Linked DNA regions of Homo sapiens. The protein of the gene in region 6 purifies or fractionates together with the protein of the main gene of each other region. This does not show direct contact. Each region holds a gene or a part of one and is shown on either strand. Other genes may lie near its edges.

Evidence for each region.
Region 1: the proteins of ISCA1 (region 6) and KBTBD11 purify together in Homo sapiens (affinity purification with mass spectrometry; one large-scale study listed by BioGRID and IntAct). This does not show direct contact.
Region 2: the proteins of ISCA1 (region 6) and PKM purify together in Homo sapiens (affinity purification with mass spectrometry; one large-scale study listed by BioGRID and IntAct). This does not show direct contact.
Region 3: the proteins of ISCA1 (region 6) and BDH1 purify together in Homo sapiens (affinity purification with mass spectrometry; one large-scale study listed by BioGRID and IntAct). This does not show direct contact.
Region 4: the proteins of ISCA1 (region 6) and MGME1 purify together in Homo sapiens (affinity purification with mass spectrometry; one large-scale study listed by BioGRID and IntAct). This does not show direct contact.
Region 5: the proteins of ISCA1 (region 6) and DUS3L purify together in Homo sapiens (affinity purification with mass spectrometry; one large-scale study listed by BioGRID and IntAct). This does not show direct contact.
Region 7: the proteins of ISCA1 (region 6) and PDSS2 purify together in Homo sapiens (affinity purification with mass spectrometry; one large-scale study listed by BioGRID and IntAct). This does not show direct contact.

The regions. Positions count from the first base shown.
Region 1 is NC_000008.11:2,004,677-2,007,436, reverse strand, and holds the end of KBTBD11 (kelch repeat and BTB domain-containing protein 11), read right to left. Parts: 3' UTR 501-2,760; downstream 1-500.
Region 2 is NC_000015.10:72,214,191-72,217,690, forward strand, and holds part of PKM (pyruvate kinase PKM), read right to left. Parts: intron 3,311-3,500; coding exon 3,219-3,310; intron 1-3,218. UniProt on the Homo sapiens protein: Catalyzes the final rate-limiting step of glycolysis by mediating the transfer of a phosphoryl group from phosphoenolpyruvate (PEP) to ADP, generating ATP.
Region 3 is NC_000003.12:197,510,969-197,514,468, forward strand, and holds part of BDH1 (D-beta-hydroxybutyrate dehydrogenase, mitochondrial precursor), read right to left. Parts: intron 3,449-3,500; coding exon 3,296-3,448; intron 1,397-3,295; coding exon 927-1,396; 3' UTR 1-926.
Region 4 is NC_000020.11:17,972,018-17,975,517, reverse strand, and holds part of MGME1 (mitochondrial genome maintenance exonuclease 1 isoform 2 precursor), read right to left. Parts: intron 2,812-3,500; coding exon of another isoform or gene 2,767-2,811; intron 1-2,766. UniProt on the Homo sapiens protein: Metal-dependent single-stranded DNA (ssDNA) exonuclease involved in mitochondrial genome maintenance. Has preference for 5'-3' exonuclease activity but is also capable of endonuclease activity on linear substrates.
Region 5 is NC_000019.10:5,788,364-5,792,398, forward strand, and holds the start of DUS3L (tRNA-dihydrouridine(47) synthase [NAD(P)(+)]-like), read right to left. Parts: upstream 2,801-4,035; 5' UTR 2,779-2,800; coding exon 2,681-2,778; intron 1,973-2,680; coding exon 1,684-1,972; intron 1,357-1,683; coding exon 844-1,356; intron 36-843; coding exon 1-35. UniProt on the Homo sapiens protein: Catalyzes the synthesis of dihydrouridine, a modified base, in various RNAs, such as tRNAs, mRNAs and some long non-coding RNAs (lncRNAs). Mainly modifies the uridine in position 47 (U47) in the D-loop of most cytoplasmic tRNAs.
Region 6 is NC_000009.12:86,265,539-86,269,038, forward strand, and holds part of ISCA1 (iron-sulfur cluster assembly 1 homolog, mitochondrial precursor), read right to left. Parts: intron 654-3,500; coding exon 505-653; 3' UTR 1-504. UniProt on the Homo sapiens protein: Involved in the maturation of mitochondrial 4Fe-4S proteins functioning late in the iron-sulfur cluster assembly pathway. Probably involved in the binding of an intermediate of Fe/S cluster assembly.
Region 7 is NC_000006.12:107,453,065-107,456,564, reverse strand, and holds part of PDSS2 (all trans-polyprenyl-diphosphate synthase PDSS2), read left to right. Parts: intron 1-3,500. UniProt on the Homo sapiens protein: Heterotetrameric enzyme that catalyzes the condensation of farnesyl diphosphate (FPP), which acts as a primer, and isopentenyl diphosphate (IPP) to produce prenyl diphosphates of varying chain lengths and participates in the determination of the side chain of ubiquinone.

The DNA.
Region 1 (2,760 bases), on a different chromosome or scaffold from region 6:
CCACACCCCCAAGCCCTCCTCAGCTACTCTCACACACAAGCCCTGCCCTGTATCACCCCTGGGCCCGGTACCAGGCAACTGGAGACCACCGTGATAGCACAAAGCCCACTGGAAGGACACAAACCAGTGCAGCGAAGCAGCTCCCCCAACCTGCCTTCCCTAGGAACCAAAGTCTAGGCGCTGGCCTCGGCTTCCACCTGCTCCTGTGCAGCCCATCCTGGTGTTCCCGAGGTCCTAGGTGGTGTGCCGTGATCCCCCGCTGGGACCCGTGAGCAGACCGAGGAATCCAGGGCACCTGGGAGTGGGAACAGACACCCCAACTTAGAACCTCTGTGCCAGGGGAGCTTCAGGAGCCGGTGAGGGCAGTTCCTCACTTAACGGGCAGGACGTGTCAACCCTGGGTCCCGCAGGCAGAGCTACGCTCCCTGATTCACAGGAGAAAAAGCCGCATCTGACGCTCGCTGTGGAGAAAGAGAAAAGCACTCGGGGCACATCAGGAGGACTGGCACTTTCTGCGTGATTTATTTCATCTCGGCATGAACTGACAAACATACGAGGCTCTGCACTATTTATGCCCAGGATTTTAAAAGTCAAGCATTAATAAATACATTAACTACACAGATCACAACAGCTGCCCTGAACTTGGCCTTCAACAGGTGTAGTTTACCTTTAATAAATGGTAACATTTGAGAATCGCTTAGAGCTTGAACAGGCTTTGGAGGAGCTTTGATCTCACATGAGAACCCGTCTCCTGTTTCATATGCGTTCAATCCAAATCCATCCACTTGGCGTGTCTGAAGCTCCTGCCAGCACAGTGTCTGTGCCGGGTGCCCGAAGGCTGCACAGTCCAGGCTTCCTCCCGGATGTGGAAAACGTGGAAATGATGTGGCCACTGAAAGAAATTCAAGACAACTGAAACAACTGCAGATTTCCATTTTCAGCTCGTGTTTTCTTATGAACAATAACATTGCAGAAGGGGAAATATCAGAAAGTTGATTGATTTTTAACCCAAAAACAGAACTTTTTGTAAGCTAGGAAAGCATCTAAAATTAACAAGAATACAAAAATGCACTTTTGTTTACATTTGCTCTATTTAGATCTTACAAGAGATTATGTCTTGAATCTATCCTGACTTCAGCAAAAGACAAAAGAACGTTGAAAACATCCTATTTCCAAATCGTTTACAGGAAGTTACCTAAGAGACTGACAGATTCAACGGCTGCTACCAGAATTACTGAAGTGACACCAGAAATTAGCAGAAACAGAGCAGATGATTAATTTCTTACTTATTTGTAGCCAAACTTATACAGTCACGAGTTTTAGTTAAGTAGCCAAAGAATTTCCACAACATTCATTTTCTTACAGCAGAAGTCGGTGCCTCCACAGACTCAGAAACCAAATCCCGAAGTTCCAAATCCAGCTCTACAAAGCTGCAGGAAGCAGTGCGGAGTGGAGGGATGTTCCCAAGAGGAAGAATAAAACCGGAAGGAAAAGGAGGAAGGCTCAAGCTCATTCCTCTGCATCTCAAATGAACCTTGATTGGCAATACAGAAGGGATTGCTGTCAACTAAGCAAAAGGTCAGGCTTCCATGCATAACATTTTCCCCAAAAGACACCACTGCCTTTTCAGACATTTGGAAAGGCCCCTGCGTATGGGTTAATTTCACGAGTCAGACATTTGGAAATGCCCCGGCATACGGGTTAATTTCATGAGGAGTGTGGACAGCTGTCATCAAGGCAATAGCCTCATCTAACTATTTTAATGGGTGGATGACCAGGAATATTTTTGCACCAACCTTTTTCCTACACAGTGTTGGACGCAGACTTAGAACACCACTTTGAATTGGAAAAGGTCCTACCTGGGGCATCAGCCGTTGCCAGGCAGTCTCAGCAATGCCTCTGCCCTCCCTGCAGCAGTCCCAAAATGAAAGCCACACCTTGGAGGGTGTGGCTTTTCTCTGTTTCATGGGTGCAAACCCTAGCGGCTCCACACCCCAGGGACTGGCCCCCAAAAAGCAAAAACACTGCTCATGGCGTGGCAGGTCCTCTAGTATGTATTTTTATGTGATATCACTATTCAGAACTGTGGTGTATACTATTCTATAAATTTCCACAATAGGTTGGCCGGACATCCTTTAATGGTGGGTATTAATTCCTCTTATTCTTTACGTTTCTTAGTGCATTTTGTTGTGAGGTGACAGGGAGCACCTGGGGCTTTGCTGCCGGGCCCCACAGGAAGCTGTGCTACATCTAGTGTGAGCATTCCTTCACTAAATGAAACGCTGGAAAGCCATGGGAACCGCACAGGACTGTGCAACCACCCCCATCCAACATCCACCACTTCTCATATCCTTTTCCGGGGACAGTGTTACTCTGGAAGCCTAATTTCAATATTTCATTTTCAAACAATAAACATTACAGGAATGATTTCACAAGTAAAATCACAGTGATAACAGCATATGAGTTTGATATTTAAGGACTGAAAATATTAGCCTGGTCCTGGTCCCATTTCATATAAAAATTTCTACCATTAATAAAATTCTAGAGGAAAAGGCAGGACAGTGTGAATGGTACATTGCTTAAAATGAACATTATTTGTTTCCTTTTGCTGTAAATACTGTTTCTACAACCATTTCTCCAGTATACTCCTATAAAAGGCCAATCAAGTCAGGCGATATGAAGTCTGTTTTTCTTTCCCAAGATGATTAACCAAGTTGCCAAGCTATCCCCTCAGTTCATGAGTAACCATGGGCAAGCAGA
Region 2 (3,500 bases), on a different chromosome or scaffold from region 6:
GAGAATGTGTCTGTATAATTTCTACTTTATGAAACGTGGGGGTTTTTTTGGTGGCCTAATATATTTTTGTAACCATGAGTGTTTCATGCAAACATGCATTTTTGGTCTTGGGGATGTAAAACCATATATTATAAACATACCAATTATTAGGTATATTATTCAAATCTATGTCATATATCATAATCTCTTAGAGCATCTCTGGGAGGTGTACTGAGTCTTCCACTTCAGCTGTGGCTTTATTGGGATGTTATGTGGTAAAGCATCCATCAATGCTGTCCTGTGGAAGGCTCTACATTTAGGTTGTTTAAAAGTCATTATTTCTAGGCCAGGTGTGGTGGCTCACGCCTGTAATCCCAGCAATTTGGGAGGCCAAGGCGGATGGATCACTTGAGGTCAGGAATTCGAGATCAGCCTGGCCAACAAGGTGAAACCAAGTCTCTACTAAAATACAAAAATTAGTCGGGTGTGGTGGCAGGTGCCTGTAATCTCAGATACTTAGGAGGCTGAGGCAGAAGAATCTCTTGAACCCAGGAGGCAGAGGTTGCAGTGAGCCAAGATCGTGCCACTGCACTCCAGCCTGGATGACAGAGCGAGACTCCCTCTCTAAATAAATAAATAAATAAATAAATAAATCTGGAAAACATGGCATATGGAACCACATGTTCAGCAAGAATGCATCTTGCCCATGTGAACTGCCAAAAGTGAGGGCTGAAGACTAGTTGCCAAAGCTGTTAAAAGAGGGCTGGGCGTGGTGGCTCACGCCTTTAGGAGGCCGAGGCAGTCGGATCACCTGAGGTCACAAGTTCAAGACCAGCCTGGCCAACATGGCGAAACCCCGTCTCTACTAAAAATATAAAAAAATTAGCTGGGCGTGGTGGCACAGGTCTGTAATCCCAGCTACTCAGGAGGCTGAGGTATGAGAATTGCTTGAACCTGGGAGGCAGAGGTTGTGGTGAGCAGAGATTGTGCCAGTGCACTCCAGCCTGGGCAACAGAGCAAGATTCTGTCTCAAAAAAAAAAAGCTGTTAAAAGATCAGATGCAGACATTTGATGTCCCTCTGTCAGAGTGAGAGGGAAGACAGTAATCTCAACGTTCTGCTCAGAAGAGCATTTAAAATAGTCAGAAACTGGAAAAGTACGCCCCAGCCCCTAGTCAAAGGTGCACATGAAACGATAGCCCTGACGTATGGTAAGGCTGAAACTGTTTACATTACATTATATAAATTAGAATAATTTCAGATCAGTTTCCAAGCTGAGCCCACACACAACCTCATCTTGGTCTAAAACTTCAAAATGAACACACAAGAGGGACATCTTTAAAAAATAAATAGATAAAAAATAAAAAATAAATCTTAATTATAATCTGGGAATAGGAGTGAAAGTAGAGATAATCTCCAAAAGCCTCTTAAAGTTTAAAATACCAAAATCGGAGCCAGCTCTCATCCAGCAGGTGTGGCAGGTATCACTCGCCCTTGCCATGTTAGAGCTATGTGGTGTTATTTTACTGGATGAAGGAACCATAAAGCCTACTTAAAGGTCAACTTCTTAAAAATCTATTTCTGCTCCTTCCCCTGAATGCAGGAGCCCATGGCAGACTACAGCAGCAGGGATCAACAGCGAACAGACCTCCAGCATTGTCTTCAGCTCTCTCTAAGCTAAGCTAACACTTAATTCTCTAACAAGTAATTCTCGGTGACTCCTGCTAAGGACCCCTTGCTTTTGGAAAACTACAGAATTTTCCAAAAGGTACAGGGACATGTCTTAACCTACATGGTATGTCTGCTGGACTTGGTCAGGTCCCCATGACATTTAAGGGCCAGCCACTAGCCAGGCCATAGGCTGTTTATGAACACAGGTTAGGGAATCTATGATGAAGAGTCTTGTGTTTCCCAAAAGGAGGAATTCACTCTTGGATTGCATTTCCTGAGGCTTTATTTTTAGTCCAAACTTAATACCAACTTCCAAATGCCAGAGGGCAACCTCTGTAAGGCAATTGGCCTTACAGGATAGCATTTTCTTTACTCTCAACAGGAAATACAGAAGCCAAGACAGGTGCAAAGTTTGCCTCTTCTGTAATTCCTCTTATCAATGCCATTACGAAATCCCATGATCTATGGGAAACCTATGGTTAAGTCTGAAGGTTTTAAAAAGGCACAATCCCAGGCTGAGCATGGTAGCTCATTCCTGTAATCCCAACATTTGAGAGAATCACTTGAGCCCAGGAGTTTGAGACCAGCCAAGGCAATATAGTGAGACCTCATTTCCCCCAAAAAAATTTTTAAATTAGCCAGGTGTGGTGGTGCATGCCTGTATTCCCAGCTACTCGGGAGGCTGAGGCAAGAGGATCACTTGAACCTGGGAGGTCAAGGATCCAGTTAGCCATAATCATACCACTGCAGTCCAGCCTGGATGACAGAGCAAAATTTTGTTTTATAAAATAAAAAAATAAATAAGTCATGGTACCTCAGGGAACCCCAAGCTCCTCAGAATGGGTTAATTCTAAATCTGGCAATGGAGGCAGGAATGGAGCCATCCCAACAGCTGCTACCTGGCTCCTGGGCAAGGCCTCTGTCCATAGGTAAAGCCAGCTAATAAAGAGCCCAGCACAAATACAGTCCTACTAGGCTCCTGGGGAAGAGTGCTAACTGGTGTTATTTTAATGTACCAGAACCCCTGGGAAGGCACAGGCTGAGAATACAGTGCTGAGGAAGTGGGGTATTACACCCCAGATAGTGCTTATGCATTAGGCTCAGTCCCTCAAAACTTAGAATAGTGGAAACCGTTCTCATGGACCTGCCCAGTTATTTTGGTTCTAAGCTAGAATCAATCTGCTAGATGGTTTACCATGGCAACACAAGGTGAAGCAGAAACCCTGGGACAGGAGAGTCAAGCGCTGTGGCCAGGACACCTAAGGCTTAGAGGGTTTTCCAGTAGAACCTTTCCATATCTTCCTTTGTAAAAGCTAAGGGTAGGAGAGGTGTGTGGGAGAACCACAGCCAGCAACAAAGGGGGTCCTTTTTGCTAAAAGAGACTCAGCCAGTTGCTTTGTCAGGACAAGAGGGAAGGAGAGTAGGGATGGGCTAGTAAAGACAAACTTCACACTGACTGTGAAACTCAGACTCATCCTTGTCTAGTCCACTGTGGCTAAACGAACACTGCACCCCCTCCCTGTTTCCTACAGGCCATCACAATGGCCATAGGGTCCAGCCACAGCTCACCTCATGAGTTCCATGAGAGAAGTTCAGACGAGCCACATTCATTCCAGACTTAATCATCTCCTTCAACGTCTCCACTGATCGGGAAGCTGGGCCTATTAGGAAAAGTTTTAAAGCCACAAGTATTAATTATTCAAAGAAGGAAAAACATTTAAGTTTGCTTAAGTTTAAAGAATTTTTTTCCCTGAAAACTTTTCCTCTCCCAAATAGCTCAAAAGTCTTTAAAAAGTGCATGGAAGGCTACTACCGTGCCAGCTTACTTTCTTGATCTACTGGGACACTTCG
Region 3 (3,500 bases), on a different chromosome or scaffold from region 6:
GTAATCCCAGCACTTTGGGAGGCCAAGGCAGGCGGATCACTTGAAGTCGGGAGTTCGGGACCAGCCTAGCCAACATGGTGAAACCCCATCTCTACTAAAAATACAAAAATTAGCCCGGCATGGTGGTGGGTGCCTATAACCCCAGCTACTTGGAAGGCTGAGGCAGGAGAACCGCTTGAACCAGGGAGGCGGAGGTTGCAGTGAGCGGAGATGGTGCCATTGCACTCCAGCCTAGGGGACTGAGCAAGACTGTGTCTGGAAAAACAAAAATCTCCAGAAACATTCCCACCCCCTCCATACAGCCAGCTCTGAGTCACTGGCTGCTGGCTGGCCAGTCACACAGCACCATGGACATGCAGAGGTACCAGTGGGCACTTGGTGTGTGCTGCCCAGATGAGGACACAGAGTTAGTCAGAAGATTCTCGGGCAAATGGATCCAAAACAGTCCTGGAATGCAAATGTGAAGTATTTCCACAGCCGTGGCAGGAACACATAACTGGCACTATTTATAAGCGATAAAAGGGTTATTTCATGCATCCTCTTTAAGCTGCAAATGCTTCATTTACAAAAGAAAAAAACCTGTCCTTTTCATTCATGAGACTGGCTTAAGGATCAAATGAGATCTGTTTTTAATATAAAGATGTTTTCTTAAAATCTCTGTATGAAATTATCTCCGGAGAGATAGATTCACCATGTTTGCCCTGAGATTTAGAGGCCTCTGCCTGCCACTCCACACCCTGTTTGTGAAGGCCCAAGTCACTCACTATGCAAAGAAGTCATTCCCTCTAGTTAGTGTTAAAACCAGTTATGGGTCTTCCTGGCATGGTGGATAATCCACACGTGGATAATCAAGAGTTGACTATATGGGTTCCTCCCTCCCCTCCCCTTCCACCAGGGATCCCTGACAGAGGCCACAGCGAGACTCTTCAGCGGATGTAGATCATGTCGGAGATGGCTCCAGGCAAGTGGGTCATGATCTGCATTCGCAGCCACCAGTAGTAGTCCATGGGGTGGTAGCGGGTGTAGGGGGTGGTGGCGGTCAGGGCGTGTGTGACAGCATCGATGACAGGGGACGTGTCTGTGGAGCCACTGCTGCAGTAGGTCTCCATCTTGGCGATCTTTTCATCAAAGTACTTCTTGCCGTAGTCCTTGCGCACGACCTCAGGCAGCTCCTCCCACATCTTCTTGGCGATGGCCTGAATGCTCTCAGGGCTGTAAAGGCTGGTGGCAGCGATGAAGTTGCCGGGCTCCACCACGCTGACCTTCACGCCCAGGGGGTACATCTCATAGCGCAGGCAGTCCGAGAAAGCCTCTACCCCGAACTTGGTGATGCAGTACGGGGAGCGGGCCGGGTTGGCCATGCGGCCCAGCATGCTGCTGATATTGACGACGCGGCCTACAGAGGGAGACAGAGGTACCTGCTAAGCCGTTACTGCCCTATGACACAGCGGGCAGAAGTCTGGCATGTCTCTAGAGGCTTGGCTGGAACCACTTCTGAGCCACCCAGGAGCCTTCTCAGTCAATAGGCAAGGCCAGCTCAGGCCCACGCATCAGCATCGGCACCCCTGGTCTTCCCTGGGAACCTGGCTGTGCCAGGCAGGACAGGGGAGGACAAGTGAGTGAGAAGCAGCAGGGCACAGTGTAATGGGCAACACGCAACTGACTCAAAAACCAGATCAAGCCCGATGCGGTGATAATTTGGGGTGAAAACACGAGGGGAGAAGTGGGAGGCGAGACAGCTGTCTGTGTGGATCTGAGCTTTCACTATAGGCAAGGTCTGGTGCTGGTGAGGGAGAAATACAGCCTGAAAGCTTCCCCTTCCCCTTATGGAGCTTAAAGTCCAGCTCCAGTAGTACGACGTGCAGATAAGTAGCACACTAGGGCCAAGTGTCTAGCCACTGACAGCAGCCCTGGCGATGGGGGTTGGAGTGCAGACGAGGAAGTACCTGGGGCTGCAGCTGGGAGGGAGCCCCGGGACAGCCCTGAAAGAGGACAGGACCCGTGCTGTTAGGCCCAACTCCCCAACTCCATTCCACCCTGGTAGGGTGGAGCCTGGGTGGAGACCAGGACCGCCTGGCAAACAGAGCAGCAGGCAGGGGCAGGGGCAGGATTTCTGAACCTGACTTCAGGGCTAGGATATGAGGAGAGAGTCCTGGGCACTGGGAGAGTGTGGTGATCCCCCTCCAAAGGCCACAGGCCCAGCCTGGGGGCATCAGGGGCCTCCCACAGCTCCTCCTGGCCCTGGGAACAGAGGGGTTGGAAGTGGATTGCATTTGGCCCAGCCCGGGAAGCCGAGGCGGATCTGGGACCAGTTTTCCTGGGAGGGAACTCAGCCCATCCAGGTGTGTCCCGGGGAGGGCACTCAGCCCATCCAGGTGTGTCCCCGGGAGGGCACTCAGCCCATCCAGGTGTGCCCCCGGGAGGGCACTCAGCCCATCCAGGTGTGCCCCCGGGAGGGCCCTCAGCCCATCCAGGTGTGCCCCCGGGAGGGCACTCAGCCCATCCAGGTGTGCCCCCGGGAGGGCACTCAGCCCATCCAGGTGTGTCCCCGGGAGGGCACTCAGCCCATCCAGGTGTGTCCCCGGGAGGGAACTCAGCCCATCCTGGGGGAGGCACCTTTCAGAAAGCTCTAAATTTGAAGTCACTGAAGGGTTGGGGTTTCCATCTAAAATCCTACAGCTGCAGTCTGTGTTCATGCTTGTTGTTGCTAGGACTTCACCATAGATGTATGGATCTTACCCTTTTTGCCACAATTGTTTGCTATGCCAGAGAAAAAAATCCAAGTCAATGACTTCTAAAGTGGTTTGCTCACATTTGGCCACCCACATGGTTTGGGTGTTTTGTTGGTTTTCCAAATTTCTAATCTTGATTTTTACTATTGTTCCCTAATACCACAATGATCTCATTTTTTAAACTACGATATAAATAACCCATAGAATGAATATGCCAGATTTTACTAACCACACCTGACTGATACAAAGATGTGTACACACAGCTTTGTGCAAAGGGTGATTCTCTCTATAGATTAGGTGTGCAGAGTGGATGGCTGCTCAACTCTTTAAGCTTTTGCTGCATGGACCACTGACCTCTTACCTGCTCTGCTTCCTCCTCCCCTACCCGGCCACAGCCCCTCTGCCCACCATCACCCCAGGCCCAGCATAGTCCCTGGGATTCACGAGCTCACCTCTGCTGAGTTGTGGACATTGGAGCTGCTGGGACAGGTATTTCCATTCTGAGCAAAGATGAACACGTGGGGCAGGTTCAGGGGCAGGAGGGAGCTCCCTTTCCCACTCACCTTTGGCCCTTCGGATGAGGGGGAGAAAGGATTTCGTCATCCGCACTGTGCCCCAAAGGTTCACTTCTGCCACCTGCTTGTAGGTCTCCAGGCTGGTGAACTCCACCTCCCCGAACGTTGAGATGCCGGCATTGTTAACGAGGCCCCACATGCCTGGACAGGAGAGGGATAGATGTGCATTTACCACATGGGCTTGGCCCAGACA
Region 4 (3,500 bases), on a different chromosome or scaffold from region 6:
GTGGGCGATATTGGCTCACTGCAACCTCTGCCTCCTGGGGTCAAGTGATTCTCCTGCCTCAGCCTCCTGAGTAGCTGGGATTACAGGCGCCCGCCACCGTGCCTGGCTAATTTTTCTACTTTTAGTAGAGATGGGGTTTCACCATATTGGTGAGGCTGGTCTCGAACTCCTGACCTCGTGATCTGCCAGCCTTGGCCTCCCAAAGTGCTGAGACTACAGGCATGAGCCACCGTGCCCGGCCAAAAATTACATTAGTTATTTTTAAGTGACAACCCCTAAGACCAAATTTCAGCCTCTTGTGAAACCTAAGAATATACTTTGAAACCAACGGGATTATTAATAGGACGTTAGGTAATAAAATGAATTAAAATTAAGTACTTCTAGGAGAATTGGGCCAAAGTCAAAACTGAAGATCTGGCGGCTACAAGACCACATCCAGTTTATGGTACTATGTGTTTAAGTATCCAATGTAATAAGTTAACTGGCTGTGATAAAATAAAAAAAAATTAGAAATCTAGGGAACTGTGCTTCTGTTTGTAGTTCTTTTTAGACCAAAACTTAATTATGAACATAGGTGGGGGAATCCTTTTACTAACAGGATTAGTGACAAACAAGGAATGGAAAATAAGGCATGCGCAAATGAAAAGTTATGAATTTGATATTATGGAATCTGGAGGGGGAGGAAGAGGAAAATATGTGACATTCTTCTCCTGTATTTTTTTTTTAGTGCTGGAACAGCCTGAAAAATTCAGCTGTGTCTCAATTTTTTTCCCTCATACATTTTTCTATTCTAATATTTAATATTTAACATGTAATATTTTTCTAATTAGCTTTAGATTATTAGAATTCTGATTTATGGCTTGTAGGAGGACACATCTTCTTTCTTCCTAACATTTTATAACATGTGAATACTAGAGAAATTTCATTAGGACACATTAGGACACATTATTTTTCCTGTATGTTCATTTTCTGAGGTCAAAGCCTTACTTTTCGTCCCCAGGTTTCTCCGAAAGAACTGTAGTGTCTGGATTTGTTGGCGTATCCCAGGATCTAACTTGATTTTTGAACTCTCTCCTCATTTTCAGTGCTCGTTGGCCTCCAAGCGCTTGCATAGTAAGCCCCCTCCTCATACACATTTTAAAAAAGGGAACATGGCCGGGCATGGTGGCTTATGCCTATAATCCCAGCACTTTGGGCAGCCAAGGCAGGCGGATTACCTGAGGTCAGGAGTTCAAGACCAGCCTGGCCAACATGGTAAAACCCAGTCTCTACTCAAAATACAAAAATTAGCCAGGTGTGGTGGCGCATGCCTGTAATTCCAGCTACTCTGGAGGCTGAGGCAGGAGAATTGCTTGAACCCAGGAGGCAGAGGTTGCAGTGAGCCAAGATCATGCCACTGCACTCCAGCCTGGGTGACAGAGCAAGACAATCTCAAAAAAAAAAAAAAAAAAAAAAACACACAAAGAGACTCAACAAACACAAGAAATATATTCACTTGTTTCTTAGTAAGAGGAGAGAAAGAGGGGGGACTGTTATGCTAAGCAATGGCCTTGGAGCTTTCAAAACATTATTTAATTTTCAAACCCAACAACCCAGCAAAATAGGGATTGTAAGTTACCCCCATTTTAATGAATGAGGCCCTATCCCACCAGGCAGTGCTGTTAATTTGCCCCAAAGCAAAAAGCTGGACAGGCAGCCTGGCACCAGAATCTGTTTCCAATCTACCACACAGTAGAGCAAAGGAAGCAATCTTGGAAATCACCAATTAGATACTCAGAGAAACAGAGCAGGAAATACACGTGCTTGGAACATGCTTGCAGAGAGACCCACAGAAAAGGCGGAAAACAACTTTACATTTGTCAAGTTTTTTTTTTTTTGAGACAGGGTCTTACTTGTCACCCAGGATGGAGTGTACTGGCTCGATCATTGCTCACTGTAACCTTGAACACCTGGCCTTAAGCAATCCTCCTGTCTCAGCTTCCTCTACAGGCATGTGCCACCACGCCTGGCTAATTCAAAAAAATTTTTTTTTTGTAGAGATGCAATCTCTCTACGTTGCCTAGGCTGGTCTTAAACACCTGGCCTCAAGCAATCGTCCCACCTTGGTCTCCCAGAGTGCTGGGATTACAGGCATGAGCCACTGCACTCGGCCTTCAACTATTTTTTACAAAGATGGAAATGTCAATTCTTTTTTTTTCCAGGCTGGAGTGCAGTGGTATGATCTCGGCTCACTGCAATCTCCACCTCCCAGGTTCAAGCGATTCTCCTGCCTCAGCCTCCGTAGTAGCTGGGATTACAAGTGATCGCTGCGCCCGGCTAATTTTTTTGTATTTTTAGTAGAGATGGGGTTTCGCCATTTTGGCCAGGCTGGTTTTGAACTCCTGACCTCAAGTGATCCGCCTGCTTCGGCCTCCCAAAGTGCTAGGATTACAGGCATGAGCCACTATGCCCAGCTGGAAATGTCAATTCTATCATTAGCAAAAAATGGAATCCCTTCTGAAAAATTATTTGGAGAGTTAAATGAAATTCAACTTAGGAACTAAGTTATTCTACTCCAAATTTACTTGACTCAATTGGAATTATTAACACGTGAAAGACCTACAAGAAATTTATGACTGATGGAATTAAAGCCTAGGAAAAAGAAGTGTATAGCATTCATCTACACACTAGGTTAATGAAGCAGAAGACAAACATGTTAAAAACAGGAAGAAAAAAACTTAGCAAATGCCATGCCAATAGACCATACATTTCTCGCTGCAAACTTACCCCTGGCTAGGTTCTTCATATACACATGATCACAAACATGAAAACCTAGATTACAGGATCCTTTAGACACTAAGGCTCAGAACATTCAACATGATTCAATTTATAAAAATAAAAAATGATCCAAGAATATTCACTGCATGTAGCATCAAGTCTGCTTATTCACTCAAAGTAATGAAAGTGAAATGTTTTCAAGTCCTCGTATATGAAGTGCACTAAAAAAAACCTTCATGCATCTCCAGTATTCTCATGATGGAACTGGCAGGATGGCTAATACTTCAGGATTAAATCAGCGTAGCAAAAAAAAAAAAAAAAAAATTAAAACCTAAACCCCATCCCTTTGTGTGTATTTATACACAAAATATAAATCAGAATAAGTCAGACTTTCTCATTCCCACCAGTCTTCAAAAGATGAACTGATGCTTGGGAAACTGCTCAAGTATTTGGAAGAATGCCAGACACATTTCTATGCTCTCACCTTTGAGAAGACTGGGTAGAAATTACTGATCCAATATTTTTCATTAAAAAAATCTTCTTAATTTTTAAAATGTAATTCTTCTTGGGTGCCACCTTCTTGGGTTTGGGATCCAGTATCCTCCAGACCCGTTAATCAATTTAGTGAGCCCTTTTTCTTTTATTCACCATGACACTAATTGTCCCTTTATTTATTTCAGAACCCACTGCTTACTAATACTTATTTTCTAAAAAGAGTGATTCTGCCTGGGCACAGTGGGTCA
Region 5 (4,035 bases), on a different chromosome or scaffold from region 6:
AGGGGGGCCAGGTAAAGTTTGCCACGGATGTCCAGCTGGAGGGAAAAAAATACACACAAGTGGAGCTTGGCCTCCACCCCAGCTGCTGAGGCCCTGGAGCCTCCCTTCTACCCACAGTCTAGGACACACTTGGCCCAAATGGTCTGGCTCCTTTGCTGGGCCTCTGCATGTGCCAATCAATCCCTTCATCAGGAATGTTCCTTTCCTCATCGTCTCCTCCACTGGAGAGCTTCTACTTAACCATCCAAACCCAGTCCCAATGCCCCCTCTTCCAGGAAGCCTCCCACATTTGTCCCCCGCTGCCCGACCCTGACCCTCTGAGACTTAGAGTGTGTCCAGCTCTTTTTTTTTTTTTTTTTTTGAGATAGAGTCTTGCTCTGTTGCCCAGGCTGGAGTGCGGTGGCACAATCTTGGCTCACTGCAACATCCGCCTCCTGGGTTCAAGTGATTCTCCTGCCTCAGCCTCCTGAGTGGCTGGAATTACAGGTGCCCGCCACCAGGCCCGGCTAATTTTTGTATTTTTAGTAGAGATAGGGTTTCACCATGATGGCTAGGCTGGTTTTGAACTCCCGACTTCAAATGATCTGCCTGCCTCAGCCTCCCAAAGTGCTGGGATTACAGGCGTGAGCCACCGCCCCCGGCCCTGTCCAGCTCTTTCTGTCCCCACCTCCTGAGGGCTGGGCCCAGGACAGAGCACAGAGAGGGAGACTCAGCCAGGAGCTCCCTCAAGGCACACAGCCTCTGACTCCCAGGCAGCTAGAACAGGAACGTGGACACAGCTGGTATTTAATAGACGCACACCAGATGGACAGATCTGCTACTGACGTTGTCCTCAACACGTACCCGCTTCTTCTCACAGGGCCGCAGCCTGACCACGTCCTCATCCGTCAGGGGCCCGCAGGTCCGCACGGGGCTGCTGGGAGGGGTGCTAGTGCCCGGCCCTGCGGGGACCTGCTGGGCACCACAGTTTTCCTGCCTGGGAGCGCCCTCGGCTGCCGTGCCCTCGGGGACAGCGGCAGCGGGTGTGGGGCCCTGGCTGAACCGGCGCAGGGCCTGCTCAGCTCGCTCGAAGCGGACCTCGCGCTTCCGCAGCTGCTGCTGCAGGGCTTTGTCCAGGCCGTTGCGGATGGACGGGGGCTGGGTCCCGCGGGCCGCCAACTCCTCCTGCACCAGGTTCTGTCCCTCGGGCCTCAGGTGGGCCCCAGCGAAGCGGCAGGTCACGCCGTAGGGGCACCGGCCGAAGGTCTCGAAGAGCACGCAGCGGGGGCCCAGGTCGGCCGGCTTGGTCTCCAGGTAGCGCCCCACGTCGTGCAGAAAGCGGCAGCGATCACCGAAGAAACACTTAGCAGCCGACTCCTGCGAGGAAACAGGGAAGCAGTGAGGGAGGACAGGGAGACCCCGGGGCAGCCCAGCAGCCAGGGTTCAAACTCTAGATCACCCCTCCTGGCTCTTGTGTCCCTGAGCAAGTCAGGCACCTCACCGTGCCTCTGCATCTCCATTTATACAATGAGAACAATGACAAGCCCTACAATGTATCCCGAGGAGAATGAAGACGGAATGGCATCAGAGCAAGCTCACTGCTCGTTGCTGAAGGCCCAGGAGCTTTCTAACAATTACCCGCTGCCAGGAAACACACCCTGCTCCTGCCTGCCCCGGCAGGAATGCTCACGTGGCCGCACTTGCCTGGATTAGGGAGGGACACAGCCTGTTCTTGTCGTAGTTCGTGGGCTTCACATGGGGCCGGCCCTTGTTTTGTCCCCGGGCCCTCTTCTGAGTCTGTAGCTGCTCCCCGGGCTCTGCTGCCTCCTCCGTCTGCCCGTCCGCCGTCTGTCCATCCTCCAGTCGGATCCGCTTAGCCTCAGGCTCAGCCAGCTCATTGCCAGCAGGGTCTCCTACCTCGGTTTCCCGGCAAGTCTTCTCCTGCCCTTTGGCTTCCAGGAATTGGTGAAACTGCTCCTTGGTGGTGAGGTATCTGCCGACAGAAAGGGAAAGGAAAACCCTCCGAACATAGTCAATAAACACTGGGGAAAGGAGGCTAGAAACACTTGCACGTCCTTAAATCCTTCTGCTGATGGGGAGCTCACTACTTAAGAACCAGCCAGCTCCCAGCCTGGGAGCCCCTCACGGCCTCAAAAAAGACCTATTTTGTCCCTGGGTCCTCACTGTCCAAAGTGTTGCGCGAAACTATTATCAGGTTCAGTCAAGAACGTCCCTGCGCACGTTAGGCTGCGAAAAACTACAATTCCCAGCATGCCTTGAAGCGGAGTCTAAGCCACCACATTTCCCAGCACGCCTTTCGGCCCTTCAAACACCGCAGGCCCCAGCACGCCCCGCGGCACTCGCTTCAACCCCAAGACCCGCCAGTAACGGCCGCTGGCAGAGCACATGCGCCGTACGTCCATATGCAGGGACTACAATCCCCAGTATGCAGCGCGGGCCTGGCCTCAAATCCCACCTGCCCTAGCATGCACGTGGTGTCCTTCGCGCATGTGACAGGCCCCAACGTGCACGATCTCAGGTACCTCCGCTGACCACCCTGCAGGCGGAAGAACGGCCCGGAATGAAGAGCCGGTGGCTTCTCGCCCTCAGCCGCTGCCTAATCTCCCGGCATGCACAGCTCGGACCGCGCTATGGGTGCCGGAAAAGGCCCTTCAGCTTCCCTCCTGCCCCGGCGACTCACTGACGCTTAATGGGCGCCACTCCTCGTTCCAAAGCTCCGGCTCCCGAGTCGCCACCACCACCATTCTCTAGAGGAGCCTCCGCCGTTCCCTCCGCCATCGGCGCCCCTCACATCCGCTCTGGAGTGTGGCGGGAAGACCTTCCGGGTCACGCGTGTCTTCCCTGATTGTGCTGGGGAAGTGCGCATGCTCATGTCGTTCCAATGACGCCATTGCTCGCTCGTGACGCCACGGGGGCGGTGCCTGCACATGGGTGGAGCCTCAGGTCCTATATAAACTAGAGCCTGGCCAATTGCGAACTGGACTGCAATCAGCTTCTGGACTGAGGAAATTTAACTGTTAGGGTGTTTTGGAGGTTTTTGTCTTTGTTGTTCTGTTGAAACGGTTTCGTTCTGTCGCCCAGGCTGGAGTGCAGCGGTACGATCACGACTCACCGCAGCCTCGTCCTGGGCTCAAGCTATCCTCCCACCTCAGCCTCCCAAGTAGCTGCGTCTACAGACATGCACCAATAGGCCTGGATAATTTTTAAATTTTTTGTAGAGACGAGGTCTTGCCAGGTTGCCCAGGCTGATCTTGAACTCTTGGGCTCAAGCGATTCTCCCACTTTGGCCTCCCAAGCATTGGGATTACAGGCGTGAGCCATGGTTCCCGGCCCCTGCTAGGGTTTTTAAAAATGTAAATTAGGGGTCGGGAGCGGTGGCTCACGCCTGTAATCCCAGCACTTTGGGAAGCCGAAGCGGGCGGATCACTTGAGGTCAGCAGTTTGAGACCAGCCTGGCCAACATGGTGAAACCCCGTCTCCACTAAAAATATAAAAAATTAGCTGGGCGTTGTGGCACATACCTGTAATCCCAGCTACTTGGGAGGCTGAGGCAGGAGAATCGCTTGAACCCGGGAGGTGGAGGTTGCAGTGAGCTGAGATCACGCCATTGCACTCCAGCCTGAGGGACAGAGCGAGACTGTCTCTAAATAAATAAATAAATAAGGCCGGGTGTGGTGGCTCACGCCTGTAATCCCAGCACTTTGGGAGGCCGAGGTGGGCACGTCAGGAGTTCGAGACCAGCCTGGCCAACATGGCGAAACCCCGTCTCTACTAAAAATACAAAAATTAGCCAGGCATGGTGATGGGCGCCTGTAATCCCAGCTACTCAGGAGGCTGACGCAGGAGAATCGCTTGAACCTGGGAGGCGGAGGTTACGGTGAGCCGAGATCGGCCGTTTCACTCCAGCCTGGGCGACAGAGCAAGACTCCATCTCAAAAAAAAAAAAAAAAAGTAAATTACACTACTTTTATGCAGGACATTAGTTTCAACAAATAATTAGTTGAGCATCTGTATGCCAGATGCTGTGCTAGATGC
Region 6 (3,500 bases):
GTACTATTAAAGAGTATGCAGTGAGGCAGCTGACAATGAAATTTTTCATAAAAATGTATAAAAAGGCTATGTTAAGTTTGGGTGGAAAAAACAATGCACCACCATATTACTACCAGCAGTCACGATGTCCTGTCTCAGATTTTAGGAGTCACCGATCTGGTTGGGAGAAATGCTGAGGGATGATCAAGCCATCAATAGCGATCTAAGGAGTGCACACAGTTCAGGAAATGGATAAACAGGTGCCCAGGAAGGCAACTTTAATGAAACTGGTTCTAAAACAAAGGATACAAGAGACCTAAATGATCCAAAAAGAGTGATGGCTTCTCATTTTCTGTCCCCTATAGAGAATATAAATATCATTTCTTCTGGAATCCAACACACTGGATTCATTTTCAAGATGTATCACTTTATTTTCCAGCACGTGACAGTCACATGATTTCTGCAGTGAGCCCCAAAGCTTCCACGAGCTTTCCTGGAACCTACGGCCAGAAGAGTCCTGAGATTTCAAATATTAAAGCTTTCTCCACAGCCACAAGTCCCTTTGATGTTTGGGTTATTGAACACAAACTCACTGGATAATTTGTCTTCAACATAGTCCATTTCTGTTCCTAAAAGTGTTAGCTGTGCTTTCTTTTCGATGAATACTCTGACTCCTTGGAGAAAAGAAAACATGTGTCATGGAAAGCCTGCAGCCTTATGGAACTTGCTGATTCAAAGCACAAGTGAACTTGAAATAGTGACTATCAATGAAAGTCAAACAAGAAGCCTTGAACATTTTAAATTATTTCCTTAAGGAATTAAGCATTCAGTTTCCTGTCTGCCCCTTCTTTCCCACACATGAATTTATGTCACAATCACATTAGGGGAGAATTTTATACAAGTAAATTCCATGACAATTTTATGCAAAATTAGAATTTACCTTTCACTATACTTCACTCATTTTTCCAGTTTGCAACATGAAGAAAATGTATATTCTCGATGAGTTTTATGAAATAAAAAAAAATTTATGAAAATTCTGCAATACACTAGATACACGGATTCAAGCTTAAAGATGTACAAAGGACTGTGATACAATGGGGCTATTTTAATAACATCAATCAGTACAACAATAGTCTTTTCTGGTTACAGGACGGAAAACAGGTACTATTCCCTAGTAATTACACAGGTAGAGGTCAGCATCTTTGTAAATACAATCTTTTTTTTTTTGGACAGAGTCTCACTCTGTCACCCCGGCTGGAGTGCAGTGGTATGATCATGGCTCACCACAAGCTCCACCTCCCAGGCTCAAGCGATCCTCCCACAGGATTACAGGCACATACCACCAGGACCAACTAATTTTTTTAGAGTCAGGGTTTCACCACGTGGCCCAAGCTGGTCTTGCATTCCTGGGCTCAAGTGATCCTCCCACCTCGGCCTCCCAAAGTGCTGGGATTACAGGTGTGAGCCACAGTGCCCAGCCAACAAATACAATCAATTTAAGAAAGCTTTCTAGTCTGGGAAACAGGGCAAAACCCTGGCTCCACTAAAAATACAAAAATTAGCCGGGCACAGTGGTGGGCACCTGTAGTCCCAGCTACTCGGGAGGCTGAGGTGGGAGGACTGCTTGAGCCCGGGAGACAGAGGCTACAGTGAACCATGATTGTGCCACTGCACTCCAGCCTGGGTAAGAGAGCAAGACTCTGTCTCAACAAACAAACAAAACAACGAAACAACAAAAAAACTTTCTTCCTTACAAGAAATTGAGCCATTAGCTAAATATAAACAATATATAATTAAGTCACCTCTTCTTTAAGATGAAAATCTTAAGGTTTATAATGTGTTATAATTTTTAAAATAATACATTTTTAAAAGGTCTTTATTGATAGTTATAACTTTAGTTTAATAAGAAAGCACACTTAGGAATCTAGGCCTCATTCTCCCATGTAGGTAAGAACTGCAAGCTAAGTGCATACTTCCAATGACAAGATAAATTATTTATTTTAGATAGGTTTTAACAGATTATAGGGTGGAAGAAGGGGGCAGCAGCAAATATAATTAATTTTAATTATAAATTAAATTATAATAAATAGCTTTGAATAAAAATTGGAAATACAGGATTCCTCAAAAACATGAGTTGATAATACAGCTCCACTAAAAATACAAAAATGAACCAGGCATGGTGGTGGGCGCCTATAATCCCAGCTACTTGGGAGGCTGAGGTGGGAGGATCGCTTGAACCAGGGAGGTGGAGGTTGCAGCAAGCCGAGATCACACCACTGCACTCCAGCCTGGGTGAGAGAGCGAGACCATCTCAAATTAAAAAAAAAAAAAAAAAAAGGATTATAATGGAGCTGAAAATTCCCATTGCCTAGCAATGCTGTAGCCACCATAATATCACAAGACAACCCATTACTCAGGTGTTTGTGGTGATGCTGGTGTAAACAAACCTATACTGCCAGTCATATAAAAGTCTAAGCATGTTCAATTATGTACACTACATAATACTTGATAATGATAATAAATGGTTATGTTACTGCTTTATGTATTTACTATACTTTTTATTGTTTAAAATTTTAGAGTGTACTTCTACTTATAAAAAAAAAAGTTAACCGTGAAACAGCCTGAGGCAGGTTCTTCAGGAGGTATCCAGAAGAAGGCATCATTATCACAGAAGATGACAACTCCATGAGTGTTACTGCCCCTGACGGCCTTCCAATGGGATGAGGGGAGGTGGTGGAAGACAGGGATATTGATGAACCTGACCCTGTGGAGGCCTAAGTTAATACGTGTGTTTTTGTCTTAGTTTTTAATTAAAATGTTTATAAAGAAAAAATTAAAAATAGAGAAAAGCTTATAGAATAAGAACGTAAAAAATTTTTGTTATTTGTACAATGTGTTTCAAAGCTAATGTTATCACAAAAGAGTCAAAAAAAAAAAAAAAAACCCCAAAGCTTACAAAGTAAAAAAGTTTCAGTAAACTAAGGTTAATTTATTATTGAAGACTAAGTGTACAAGGTTTATAAGGTCTATAGTACTACGGAGGAACGTCCTAGGCTTTCACATTCACTTATCACTCCCTACTCACTCACTGACTCACGCGGACAACTTCCAGTCCTGCAAGTTCCATGCATGGTAACTGCCACAAACAGGTGTACCATGTTTTATTTTCTTCTTCTTCTTCCTTTTTTTTTCTTTTTTTTAAGAGATGGAGGTCTCGCTATGTTGCCCAGGCTTAAGGGCAGTGGCTATTCACAGGTAAGAACACAGTGCACTATGATGTCTTTTTTTCTTTTTTGAGACAGAGTCTCACTTTTTCACCCAGGTTGGAGTGCAATGGCATGGTCTCGGCTCACTGCAACCTCCGCCTCCTGGGGTTCAAGCGATTCTCCTGCCTCAGCCTCCCAGTAGCTGGGACTACAGGCGTGTGCCACCACACCCAGTTAATTTTTTGTATTTTTAGTAGAGATGGGGTTTCACCATGTTGGCCAGGCTGGTCGTGAACTCCTGACCTCATGATCCAC
Region 7 (3,500 bases), on a different chromosome or scaffold from region 6:
TGAAATAAGTAAAATTACATTGTTATTTTTCTAAATAATAATGTTTCATTTTACTGGTTTCTTTGCAATGTACAAATATGATAGTTTATTGCATATGACCTTATGTGACTTCCTTTTTAAAATTCATGGTTTCTGAGATTCATCCATGTTGTGTGTTTAACTGTAGTTCATTAGGTTTTTACTGTGTGTGAAATTCTGTTGTGTGAATATACCATAGTCATCTTTTGTTTGTTTATTTATTTTCAGACAGAGTTTCACTCTTGTTGCCCAGGCTGGAGTGCAGTGGCACAGTCTCGGCTCACTGCAGCTTCCACCTCCCGGGTTCAAGTAATTCTCCTGCCTCAGCCCCCCAAGTACCTGGGATTATAGGCGCCCGCCACCATGCCTGGCTAATTTTTGTATTTTTAGTAGGGACAGGGTTTCACCATATTGGCCAGGCTAGTCTTGAACTCCTGACCTCGTGATCTGCCCACCTCAGCCTCCCAAAGTGCCGGGATTATAGGCGTGAGCCACCACGCCGGGCCTCACAGTCATCTTGTAATTAACATTTGGGTTGTTGCATTTGTTAATATTATGAAAAATGCTGTTATAAATATGTTTGCATATCTTTTGGTGTTCATGTCACGAGGATATAAAAACAAGAGCGTAATTGTTGGATGTGCACATGTTTATCTTTAGAATGCTTTCTAAAGTGAATGTACCAGTTTATACTCTCATAAACAACTTCTGAGTTCAGGTTACTCCTAGTTCTCATAACACTAGAACTAAGAGATTTCTTAAGTTTTTTTTTTTTTTTTTTTTTTTTTTTTTGAGACAGAGTCTCGCTCTATCGCCAGGCTGGAGTGCCCAGTGGCCTGATCTCGGCTCACTGCAACCTCTGACACCCTGGTTCAAGCAATTCTCCTGCCTCAGCCTCCCCAGTAACTGGGATTGCAGGCATGTGCCACCACGCCCAGCTAATTTTTGTATTTTTAGTAGAGAAGGGGTTTCACCATGTTGGCCACGATGGTCTCTAGCTCCTGCCCTCATGATCTGCCCACCTCCGCCTCCCAACGTATTGGAATTACAGGCATGAGCCACTGCGCCTGGCCCAGATTTCTTAGTTTTTGGTAATCCAGAAGGAGGTTTCTTTGTGTTTGATGGAAATGATAGTGTCAATGATAGGGGCTGTAGTATTGCATTATGAGTATTGTAGTCCATCATAAAGCACAGAAGTGAAAAGGGTGAAGCTAAAAAGAGCCTTATTAATGTGTATATTCTGAGAACCGTAGTTCGTCTACTTAGTTGCAATAGCATCAGATGAGGGTTTGGAGAAGATCTCTTCAGAGGCCACCAGAGGCATCCTAGATGAAAGTTTGTGAGACTAATGGTTCTGAAACTTTCCTAATTGTTGCCTAACCTGCCTTGTAGTACTATAGTACAGTGACAGAACTGGAAAGGCACAGAATAAGTAAGTTTTTGCAAAGTTGTCCTAGCATGTATGTGTTGCTGTATTTTGTAAGAAAAGAAAGAGCTAATCTGCATATAATTTTATTCTATTTACTACAATAATGTGTTGCAAATTATTTAAACAGCCTAAACTCATAGACAGCCAATGAAGAAACTTTTGGGGTGTGGATATGTATCTGTATATATTTGTATATACACTGTACACAGTTATTTCAGCAAAGGAGCAGGCATTTGATCCAGAGGTTAAGCAGGTAATGATTATTGTAAATTATAACTAAAATCAAGGATTAAGCAGCTGTATTTTTTTTGTTTTTTTATTTTTATTTTTTTGAGGCAGAGTCTTGCTCTGTTGCCCAGGCTGGAGCCATTTACTTTTCGAATAAAGCTACATGGTATGTTAGGGGTGAATCATGTCTAATAGCCCTAAAGTTTACGTGAATGGTGACTTTGTTAGCAAACAGCAGGAAAAAAAAAAAGGAAACCACCATAATTTGCTATTCACTGATCTCTTTACCTAAGACATCTTGTCAAGAAAAGGGAAAAACAGCCTAGATGTGACATATATTCTTTAACACTAAATGAGAAATGAGGTTAAAAATCTTGAGGTTTGGTGAGATAATGATTCTGTTACTAGGAATAGAGGAGCATTTAGCTCATTGTTACTCTTGTTCATCTAGATTTTCTAGGATCTCTCTGTTGTAAACTATAATTAGATAAATAATTAATTAAATGTTTATTGAAACTTATGAAGTGATATAAAGAAGTCTAGACCAGGTGTGGTGGTTCACACCTGCAATCCCAGAACTTTGGGAGGCCAAGGTAGGCAGATTGCTTGAGCTCAGGAGTTTGAGACCAACCTGGGCAACATGGTGAAACCCCATCTCTACAAAAAATACCAAAAATTATCCGGGTTGCTGGTGCATGCCTGCAGTCTTAGCTACATGGGAGGCTGAGCTGAGAGGATACCTTAAGCCCAGGAGGTCGAGGCTGCAGTAAGCTGTGGTCGTGCCACTGTGCTCCATCCTGGGCAATGGAGTGATACCTTGTCTCAAAAAAAAAAAAAAAAAAGAAGTCTGAAACATGGACCCTGTCCCTTGATGAGTTGACACAAAAGATATTTACAAATATCTAACAGAAGGAAACAAATGACTTGTGGTTAATGAGCTACCACATAGAGAGATGGCTTGGAATAGTAGAGAACCTTTCATGGAGAAATTGGGACTCCATTGAAGGATGGATGGATAAAAATTACATGAGTAATGTTTTAGGGTAGTAGTTATATAATATTTGTTTTTTTCCTTCATGATTCTTTCTTTTTTCCCCTTTCTTCTCCAGGCTACCATACCTCTACTAGGTATGGGGAAGACCTTAAAAGCAAGGATAAGCAGCATGAATAGAGCTAGAATAGTAAAAACTAGAACATTTTAGGATAACTAAAATGTTGGAAAAAGAAAGCATGGGTTGAGGAATCATTCCACCTACTGTTAAATCTTACTATATAGCTGCATTAATCAAAACACTGCGGTATTGGCAGAGGAACAGACAGATCAATGGAACAGAATAGAGAACCCAGAAATAGATTAACACAAATATGCCCAACTGATTTTTAACAAAAGTGCAAAAACAATTCAATGGAGGGAGGATAGTTTTTTTTTTTCTTTCTCTAAAAATAGGGCTGGAACAATTGAACATCATAGGCAAAAAAATGAACCTTGACCTAAACCTCACACAGTATTTTTTAAAAATCAATGTAAAATGGATTATTTGTGAAATCAATGTCCACTTAAAATGGATTTAAACATGAAATGTTAAACTATAAAACTTTCAGAAGAAAACATAGGATAATATCACGGCCGGGTGCAGTGGCTCATGCCTGAATTCCCAGCACTTTGGGAGGCTAAGGTGGGTGGATCACCTTAGGTCAGGAGTTTGAGATGAGAATCGCTCAAACCCAGGAGGTGGAGGTTGCAGTGAGCCGAGACTGCACCACTGCACTCCAGCTTGGGCGACAGAGCAAGACTCAGTCTCAAAAAAAAAAGAAAACATAGGAT